Regions from separate parts of the Homo sapiens genome. Here region 2 is linked to region 1. The links come from fine-mapping of genetic effects on gene expression. A gene starts in region 1. The other region holds a variant in brackets. All regions are shown on one strand. Distances are from middle to middle. Region 1 holds the start of CSF2RB (colony stimulating factor 2 receptor subunit beta). Region 2 has its middle 7.7 kb from the start of LL22NC01-81G9.3.

What was found. PIP is the estimated chance that this variant, and not a neighbour inherited with it, causes the effect.
Region 2: its variant is the best candidate, but not a certain one, in a credible set for the expression of CSF2RB in whole blood (INTERVAL, PIP 0.52).

The regions. Positions count from the first base shown.
Region 1 is chr22:36,911,249-36,916,630 of GRCh38, forward strand. It overlaps CSF2RB (colony stimulating factor 2 receptor subunit beta), which reads left to right and starts at 2,380. Exons shown (of 14, transcript NM_000395.3): 1 at 2,380-2,429. RefSeq lists an enhancer at 213-914.
Region 2 is chr22:36,954,827-36,960,208 of GRCh38, forward strand. No RefSeq gene overlaps it. Among named protein-coding and RNA genes, the nearest start is that of LL22NC01-81G9.3, 7.7 kb to the right of the region's middle. The variant G/GT (reference allele first, on the strand shown) is at 2,395.

The DNA.
Region 1 (5,382 bases):
GGGACAGATTGACAATGAAAGCTAATAGGACTCACCAAGAATAATCCAGCATCACTTCTGTGCTATTTTGGCCAAAAAAGCATAACCCAGTTCTAATCATCAGACAGAGCCAAATCGAGGGACATTATTCAAAACAACCAACCTGCAGTCTTCGAGATGTCGAGGAAAAAACAAGGCATCTGTTTCAAACTGGAGGCCCGAAAGACATGGCAACTAAGAGCCATGCATTTAGAGAGAATGCAAAGTCCCGGATGGATTTTCTTGTTACAAAACCATTATTGAGAAGCTTAGCGAAACTCAAAGGGGGTTTCCACATGAAGGGTATGTGAGAGTTCTTTGTATCATTCCTTTAACGCTCTGTATTTTGAAATAGTTTCAGAATAAAAATGGAAATGGAAAAAAATGCAATGTTAACATATACGAGTTACTACTTTCAACAAGTTATCTTCCTTTTCATGCCTCAATTTCTTCATCTGTAAGGTGAAGACAGTAACAGCTACATAAAGGTTATTGGGAAGAGATGGAGAAGCCCCCAGCCGAAGGTCTGCTCACAGCGTAAATGCTCAAGCCCTGGTCATTATGAGTACTACGTTCTTGCCAACATTTTCTTGGGTTTCTTAGTCTCTAAAAGATCGTCAATTGCAAGACACGGTATTTTACATACCACTGAAGGAAAAAACAAACAAACAAACGAAAACATTCAATGAATTCCTGACGGTGTGATTCTTCTCGCTTAGAACTTTTAATACTTATTGAGAGAACTCTGTTAGACTCATTCAAATGTAGATTTTTATCCCCTGCTGCTCTATGATGACTTTTAAAAGGAAAGGGTCAGTCAAGTGAATTGGCTGAGGTGTTCCTAAAGCTCCTTCACATTTTGGGTCTGGTGTCCGGAGTGATTTTGACTCAGAGTCTCGGGTTCTTCGTTTCTCCACCAGACAGCATCCTCTGTGCTCCTGAGGGCATCCAGGCCCGCAGCCTCCCAGTCCCACAGAGGACCTCAGCAAAGACAGGCAGAGTGGGGACACCTGGGAGAAAAGAGAGCCCGGGACGTCACTTTAATTCCATCCTCTCCAGCCCTGGAGAAGCCCCTGCAGGGTTTTTCCATGCCAGGCAGGGACCTCACACTGACCGGAGTGCCTGAGAGAACCACACATGCCTTCCTCTACCCTGGGCTTTCTCTGCTAGGGTGAGGCCCTGCCAGCTCTTCCTGGCCAACCCTGCCCTTCCTGGTAGGAGGAAAGCAAAGAACAACAATCAGGCCAGAATTCCAGTGGCTTCGAGGCAGGTTCCTGCCCCTCCATTTCCTCCATTCCCCTCATTCTTGCCCTCCATTCCCCTCATTCCTGCCTGCTGCCCTTTCTCCTGGGAGGCAGCCCCATGTAGGAGAAATATGACTGCGTTTTGTTGTGTCTTGGCACTGTGATTCATCTTGTCTTTATTCAAACTTTTCATATTTGGTTCACCGTGAATAGTTTCTGCATCAGTTGGGATTTTTTTAAACCATATTGCATTAAAATATTACTTACAACAATTACTGAATTTTTAAATGCCTGTTTAAATTTTGAGCACGAGAGACTGCCTCACTCACCTGACCTTAATTCTGCTGGCCCTGCTGTGCTCAGGGAGCCACTCATTCATTCATTCATTCATTCATTCATTCATTCATTCATCTATTCATTTGCACACAGTCAAAGGTGCAATTTCTCCTCTGTACCAGGCCATGTGCTAGGTATTTGGGAGGGAAGTGCAAGCCGGACACAAGCCAGCACTGAAGATAGTGTCAGAAGAAAGACAGCCATGAACACACATGACCATATGACACATGGTGGGGTGGGGCGGCAGGGCAAAGAGGACATCGGGGAAATCAACATGCCACCAGCTACCACTTGTAGGGGGTTCTCCTGTGGCCAGCTCTGAGCTAAGGTCTTCCTGCACAGAATCTCACTGGATTCCCTCAACAGTCCTTCCAGGTTTGTAGATGCTTCTGCAAAAGTAACAGACAGATGGATGTCCCGAGGCTTGGGGAAGTAACACGCAGATGATTTGCACAAGGACACGCTTTAAGAAGCAGTGGACTTGGAAGTCCAACACAGATCTGTCTGGCTCTGGGCTCAAACCAGCTATGGTTATTGCAGCCACTTCCACCTGCATCCCCATCAAGCAGTCAGGGAAGGCTGCATGGAGGAGGCCCTGCGTCAGCTGAGGCTTGAAGGAGGCCTAGGAGTTTATAGGAAGGTAAATTGGAGTAGGAGGCTTTCTGGAAGTAAGAAAAGTCACGTGCACTATTAGCAAAGTAGGCCTGGGCCGGCACTGCTTCCTCTTTCTGCTTCTCTGTTTCCTGATGACATCAACATAAATAGGAAACGTGGGAGGCTCACTCTGCCTAGAGGCTCCAGAAGAAGACTGGTCTCTCCCACCACACAGAGGTATGGCCCGGCGTCCAGGAGCAGGGCTGAGGGGTGGGGTCAGAGCAGGGGGGAATGTGGGGAGTCCAGGATGAAAAAGGACAGGGGGAGCCTGGGGGGCGTCCTGTGGGTAGCTGTGCCCTGGGGACTTGGAGGAGTTAGGGCTTGGCCTCTTAGGATGACCTGAGCCCAGACTCCTAGGGCGGCCAGTGGATGGGGAGGCAGCCAGGGGTGCCAAGCTGCTTGGGTGTTGTAGGAGAGCTCTGGGGAGGACTCAGCCTCGCTAGCGGGATCTGGTTGGTCCTGGTGGGAAGGACGCCTAGTGGGGTGAAGAGAGCTCAGGCCTGGGAGTCAGGCACCTATAGTCTGTCTTCGCTTTGTCACTAAGATGCTGGTGGTAGTGAGAGCACCCCCTGTCCACCCTGGGCTTCTGTCTCCTCATCTGTGGAATGGGGAGCATGGATAGTCCCTGACATCTTGGTTTAGAAAGAGAGAGAACGCATGCTCGTGTGTTTGCCCGTGTGTGCATTTGTGTGTGTGCCTGTGTGTGTATGTGCATGTGCGGATGTCTGGGGATGCAGGAGTGCAGAGAGACTAAGAGGCAGAGGGTGAAACCTGGAAGCTTGCTGCGCTGAGGCCCAGAGCTGGGTGCGGTGTGGCTTGAGAAGCTCACTTTGAACTTGAGAAAGAGCCCAGCACTTTGCCCAGAGACATACCAGGCACTATCCAGCAATCTCTCTCTCTCTCTCTCTCTCTCTCAGTCTCTCTCTCTGTCTGTCTGTCTTTTTAGTTATGACACTCTGCCCTGCTGATTTGGGTTGCTGATTTGGGTTGGGGCCCAGGTGTGTGTGTTCTGTACCCAAGTATGCTGGCTGGGTGGGTGGGTATCTGGGGTGCCTGCTTCAGGGTGTGTGCAGGTGTGTGTACTGGCCCTGAGAATGAAAGGGCAGGTGTTTCACTGGGACCTTGTCAGACAGGTGCTAGCGACAAGCTGCATATGTGCAATTTTTAGTCTTCAAAAACCCTGCTGTTATATTTTTGTACAGCCCAATTCTAATTTTTTTCTATCATCTTTCCTGCTTTGTAATCATTTTATAATGAGTAAACATTTCCTATTAGCTTTTGGTCACTCTTTTTTTCATCCAGCAGTTTTATTTATATTGTTCCAGTATACAGATATACCAACACCACAGGATAATTCATGAGTTGTATAAGGAATGTATTTAATGCTAAACAAGCAACTACACAGAAACCTACCTTCATGAAAATTAGAATAATCTAGAATTATGTAGCACAAGAGACAAAGTCCCCAGCAATTTCTTTTCCCTAGTTCCATAGCTTATTCTTTTCACCACATGTATTCTTCCAGAACATTTTCTAAGCATGATACAAGCATATAGTTTTTCTTTTCCTGTTTGTTTTTTGTTTTGTTTTGTTTTGTTTTTGTGACAGAGTTTTACTCTTGTCGCCCAGGCTGGAATGCAGTGGTGCAATCTTGGCTCACTGCAACCTCTGCCTCCCGGGTTCAGGTGATTCTCCTGCCTCAGCCTCCTGAGTAGCCGGGATTACAGGCATGAGCCACCACACGTGGCTAATTTTTGTATTTTTAGTAGAGACAGGGTTTCACCATATTGGCCAGGCTGGTCTCGAACTCCTGACCTCAGATGATCCGCCTGTCTCAGCCTCCCAAAATGCTGGGATTACAGGCTTGAGCCACTGTGCCAGGATGGTAGTTTTTCTTTTTACAGAAATGGGATTATTTTATTTATATATATATATATATATTCCTAATTTTTTCACTTAATATTGTATTTTGGAATATTTCCAAATTTCTACAATAATACATACAGATTTAACTCGTTAAGTAACCCTAAGAAATATGTGGCATTTATTAGGATGGGTACACCACAATTCATCTAATCTCACGTTGATCGACACCTAGATTGTTTCTAATTTTTCCACATCTGTGAAAGTGTTTCTGTAGCCTAAATTACTAAATGCAGAATTGCTGTGCAGAGGTTGTGCGTTAGAAATTATAATAGGTATTGTCAAATCAGCCTCAAAGTAGCTGAGCTAAGCTGACGTCCCCAAGGTAGTGCATAAAGGGTCCAATTTACCTTTAGAGAAATTATCAATCTTCTAATTTTGTCCAATATTATGTATGGAAATTCTCAATGTCGCGTGATTTTTTTCTTTCCCTGATTATGGGTGAAGTTGTACATTTTCTATATGTGGATTGGCCTTTTGGATTTCATTTATGATGAATGTGGAGAAATTTTTGTTCATCTCCTGTTGAATTCTCTTTTACATCTTAACTTTTGGAGTGACTCATTTATTACGTGTATTAATAATCCATTTATATATGTTGAAAATATATTCTCCCAGGTTATGACTTATCTTTTTCTTTACCATGTTTAAGATGTCTTATGTCATATAAAAATGTTTTCATTGTTAAGTCAAACCTGTCATTACTTTTTACTTTATGGTTTCTGATTTTGGTGTCTTGTAAACCTCTAAGATCACAGGTGTCTTGTAAACCTCTTTTTACTTTATGGTTTCTGGTTTGGTGTCTTGAAACCTCTAAGATTACAGAAAGAGTTTTAATAATTTTACTATTTTGGTTTTGACTTTGAGATTTTTAGCCCACCTAGAATTTAGAGAAGTGAGTAATGTGTAAAGTAACTTTTAAAAATAATTACCATCTAATTGTCTTAACATTGCTAATTATGAGTGTGTGATTTCTCCTCTCTTCAATGATTTGAAGTGCCCCTATTACATCCTAGGCTTCTATACATACTTCGTTATTTTCTTTATTGTTTTCTCTTCCATTTGGCTGTCACTACATTCCTTATTATTTTTCTAACGAATGGAGCAAGTCTCTCATCTCTGGTTTGTTATAATTTAGAATCAGTTTGCCAAGGCCAGGCACAGTGGCTCATGCCTATAATCCCAGCACTTTGGGAGGCTGAGGCAG
Region 2 (5,382 bases), 44 kb after region 1:
TCTACTTCCCCTGCACCCCATTCCCATGCCCCACTTCCCCTGCACCCCATTCCCATCCCCCACTTCCCCTGCACCCCATTCCTACACCCCACTTCCACTGGACCCCATTCCCACAGCCCACTTCCCCTGCACCCCATTCCCATGCCCCACTTCCACCTTAAGGACTCACGTATACCCAGGCACTATACAAACACACACACCCACAACCACATGCACAGACGCCAATGCAGGCACCCCTGACTTGCATCAAAGTCAACACCCAAATGGGCCAAATGGCTCCAAGTGGAGGAGGAGGGGCAAAAGACAGGCATGGGCAGAGGGAGAAGAGGCTTCTGCTTCTGGCCATAATGGAGTAACTAGGACCAGGTATAGCCTTCTACTTTAGAAGTATAAAACTGGACAAACGATATTAAAAATCTGTTTTCAGCTGTTAGAAAAGAGGAGTCCTTCTATATGATCGCTCAGAGAGTGAAAACAAACACGGTAGGTCCTATGATCATCCTACCTTTCTTTTCTTTTTCTTTTTTTTTTTTTTTTTCTGAGAGGGAGTTTCGCTCTTGTTGTCCAGGCTGGAGTGCAGCGGCGTGATCTCGGCTCACCGCAACCTCCGCCTCCCGGGTTCAAGTGATTCTCCAGCCTCAGCTTCCCGAGTAACTGGAATTACAGGCACTCGCCACCACACCCAACTAATTTTGTATTTTTAGTTGAGACGGGGGTTTCTTCATGTTGGTCAGGCTAGTCATGAACTCCTGACCTCAGGTGATCCTCCCACCTCGGCCTCCCAAAGTGCTGGAATTACAAGCATAAACCACCGTGCCTACCTTTTTCTACCTTTCTACCACTTTCTTGACTGTGACGTAGGTAAAAGAACTCCAACATGACCATGGCAGTCTTGCTGTGTTGGGCGATAGGGGTCTGAGTCTGAAGAGGCAAAAGAAGCTGGAATTTGGTGTAGAAAACAAGAGAAGAAAGAGCTGCACAGAGAAAGAGACCCAGCAAATCTACACAGAGATCCTCTTGCATGTACTGCTGCACACTAAACCATGCATGTGTGGGGTGGAGCTCCACTAGACTGTGTAAATAGTACACAGAGAGATGTATCTGAACAATTTCCAGAACTCACCAAGGTCTGGGAGATGTTCAAGTTCCAACAAGCCAGAATAGGAATTCTTACTGAACACCTCACACATTCAGTAGAGAACCAAGAAGAAAAACACCTTAGTGCCAGCACTAAACCAGCCCAGGAGAGGGCCATTCTAAAACTGCTCTAGGCCAGCATGGTGGCTCATGCCTGTAATCCCAGCACTTTGAGAGGTCAAGGCGGGTGGATCACTTGAGGTCAGGAGTTCGAGACCAGCCTGGCCAACGTGGTGAAACCCCATCTCTACTAAAAATACAAAAATTAGCTAGGCGTGGTGGCAGGTGCCTCTAATCCCAGCTATTTGGGAGACTGAGGCAGGAGAATTGCATGAATCCAGGAGGCGGAGATTGCAGTAAGCAGAGATTGCACCACTGCGCTCCAGCCTGGGCAACAAAGTAAGACTCCATCTCAATAATAATAATAATAATAATAATAATAATAATAATAATAAAAGTCCTCTAAGGAAGCTTAAAAACAAACCTTAAAAGATCAAACTGATTGATATGGTTTGGATTTTTGTCCCCATCCAAATCTCATGTTGAAATGTAATCCCCGATGTTGGGGGTGGGGCCTGGTGGAGGTGTTTGGATCATGGTTGGGGGATCCCTCGTGAATGGCTTGGGCCATCCCCTTGGGGATGAGTGAGCTCTCACTCTGAGTTCACAGGAGATCTGGTCATTTAAAAGTGTGTGGTACCTACCCCTACGCTGATCTCTCTCTCTCTTTCTCTCGTTCCTGCTTTCATTGTGACGTGCCTGCTCTCCCTTCACCTTCTGCCACAATTGGAAGCTTCCTGAGGCCTCCCCAAAAGCTGAGCAGATGCCAGCACCATGCTTCCTGTACAGCCTGCAGAACTGTGAGCCAATTAAACCTCTTTTCTTTATAAATTACCTGGTCCTGGGTGTTTCTTTATGACAGCATGAAAATGACCTAATACAGAAAATTGGCACTGAGAGTAGGATATTTTCCATATTAGGTCATTCTCATATTGCTGTAAATCAATGAATGCCTTAGACTGGGTAATTTATAAAGAAAAGAGGTTTAATTAGCTTACAGCTCTGCAGGCTGTACAGGAAGCATGGCACCGGCATCTGCTTCGTTTCTTGGGGAGGCCTCAGGAAGCTTACAATCATGGCAGAAGGTGAAGAGAGAAGGCACGTCACACAGTGAAAGCTGGTACAAGTGAGAGAGAGAGAGAGAGAGAGAGAGAGAGAGCACTAGTGCAGAGGCAGCTGCCACACACATTTATTTTA[G/GT]TTTTTTTTTATGTTTTTATTATTATTTTTGAGACGGAGTCTCGCTCTGTTGCCAGGTTGGAGTGCAGTGGCACGATCTCAGCTCACTGCAACATCCACCTCCCTGGTTCAAGCTATTCTCCTGCCTCAGCCTCCCAAGTAGCTGGGATTACAGGCGCACACCACCACACCTGGCTAATATTTCTATTTTCAGTAGAGACGGGGTTTCACCATGTTGGCCAGGCTGGTCTCAAACTCCTAGCCTCAGATGATCTGCCTGCCTCCGCCTCCCAAAGTGCTGGGATTACAGGCATGAGCCACCATGCCTGGCTGGTGCCACACTCTTTTAAATGACTGGATCTCCTGTGAACTCAGAGCAAGAGCTCACTCATCACCAAGGGGATGGTCCAAGCCATTCAGGAGGTATCCCCCCGACCATGATCCAAACACCTCCCACCAGGCCCCACCTCCAAGATTGGGGATTACATTTCAATATGAGACTTGGGTGGGGACAAATATCCAAACTATGTCACTGATCTGCAAGTAACTTAATGACTCATCAGAATAAAGTCCAACACTTTTTGAAGAAAGACAATACAATGCAGCAGTCACCAACATAAAATAAACAATGCTCAGCATCCAATCAAAAATTACCAGATGTAGGCCAGGTGCAATGGCTCACACCTGTAATCCCAGCACTTTGGAAGGCCGAGGCGGGAGGATTGCTTGAGCCCAGGAGTCTGAGACCAGCCTGCACAACATGGTGAGACCTTGTCTCTGCAAAAAATAAAATAAAATTTAAAATTAGCTAGGCATGGTGGTGTGCACCTGTAGTCCCAGCAACTCGGGAGGCTGAGGTGGGAGGATCACTTGGGCCTGGCAGGTGGAGGTTGCAGTGAGCTGAAATCGTGCCCCTGCACTCCAACCTGGATGACAGTGAGACCCCATCTAAAAAAAAAAAAAAAATTACTACATGTAGAAAGAAGGAAGAAAATGTAACTCATAACAAGAGAAAAATCCGTCAAAGATAGAACCCCAAAATGATGCAGCTCATTATGGAACTGGCAGACAAGGACTTTGAAACAGTTATTATGAATAGGCCGAATAATTTTTCAAAAACATGAACATAACAGAAGTGGAAGATGTCAAAATAAAAACAAATAAAACTGCCACAGATAAAAGTACAACATATGAAAAGAAAATGTCATTGAATTGGCTTAATATTAGTGAATTTGAAAATATAGTAATTGAAATTATCTAAATTAAACACAGAATAAATCTGAAAAATATTACTATAAACTCCCATTCATCATTCAAGCCTCAGCTAACGCAGGGCCTCCTCCATGCAGCCTTCCCTGACTCCTCATGGGGATACAGATGGGAGTGGCTCCAATAACCACAGCTGGTGTGAGCCCAGAGCCAGACAGACCCGGGTTGGACTCCCACCTCTAGTATTGCTAAGAGTGAGACCTTGTGCAAATTATCTGCATGTTACTTCTCCAAGCCCCAAAACTGTCATCTGTTACTTGGAGATGGTCATCTACAAACCTCAAAATGATTTTGAAGGAACCAAGTGAAATAATGCCTGTCACATGGAAACCGATGATCGGAGTTAGCTAAATCACTTGTATTTTCCTTGGTTCCTATTTTGCCCTGTCCCTTCTTCCCATACAGTCCTGGAGTGCTCAGTGTTCATGCCCACCCCCAACCCCCCACAAACACACCTGATTCATATCTCTCTCCCTGGTTATTTGCACATGTCCTGGCACAGAGTTAGCACTTGAAATTGTGTGTTGGAAAATTTGGGTATTGGAAGGTATTGGAATGAATGCATGGATGGATGGATGGATGAGTGGGTGGGTGGATGGATGGATGGAGGGATGGATGGATGGATGAGTGGGTGGATGGATGGGTGGATGGATGGATGGATGGATGGATGGATGGATGGATGGATGAGTGGATGGATGGATGGATAGATGAGCAACTTCTTGAGGATAGAAGCTCCAGAGCCTATGCTTTTCTACTTTGCATCTCTGGTTCTATCCAGCCAGGTATGAGGCTGTGCACACAGACTGAGGAAACTCACTTGGTGACATAAAGACTGGGTGCCCTGTGTAAGCCACAGAGATGGGCACATTGAGTCCTGATGTTTAGAATTCAGAGATTGGTGTCTACCTTTTCTTCCTGTCTTTTTCCTGTGTTGGGGAGAAGGTCAGGGAGGAGGAGAGGGAATGGTGGGAACCACTGACATTCTGCCTTGATGATTCTTGAATTACTGCCTGCCAGGAAGGGGACCTGGCTGGGAACAGTGTAGGATGCCCTTCCCTGGTGGGGAAAGTCTTTCCTGGAGTGGAGGATTGGAGGGTGTTCAGGGAATGCCTGGGGCGCCCTGGGGACCCTGAGCTCTCTTTGGCACCCCTGCATGTGTGTGAAATCACGGTGCTGGCATGGAGAGGGTACTCAGGGGACATAAAGGGTCTGAGCTAATGTCCTGTCCCCAGCATTCTTTCTGTCTTGGATGGTCCCACTTGGCTTCCTTGAACCCCTTCACCACACTGGGAATGCAGAGAGGCACCAGACCCACGGCTGGCCAGGAGGAGCTCAGTCTGAGATGTGCACAGAGTGGAAGTAGGAGGATGCTTCTCAGAGGATTGCTGGTGCTGGACTCATCCTTCGTGCCCTCCTCCCACAGCCATGCCCTGAAACATTAGGACCTGGGAAAACTGACCCGGCACAGGGTCTGCGGGGGATTTCTGCTGCCTGGAGCTCAGGAAGCTGCATCTTATTGCCGCAAGGAAATGTCTACCCTCACCACCCACCAAGAGAGTGCAGAGAGACTCACACTGCTGGTCCCTTCCCTCGGTGAGGAAGATGCCTCTCAGCCTCCCAGCTCCCTGAGTGGCAAGAGCTCAGTACCCCCGGCCAGGCTGCAATGTGTGTGCAATGCAGAAATGTATGTGGTATGTGGAAAGTAGAACACAGGAAAATATCAAAGCCAAAGCTTCTTAC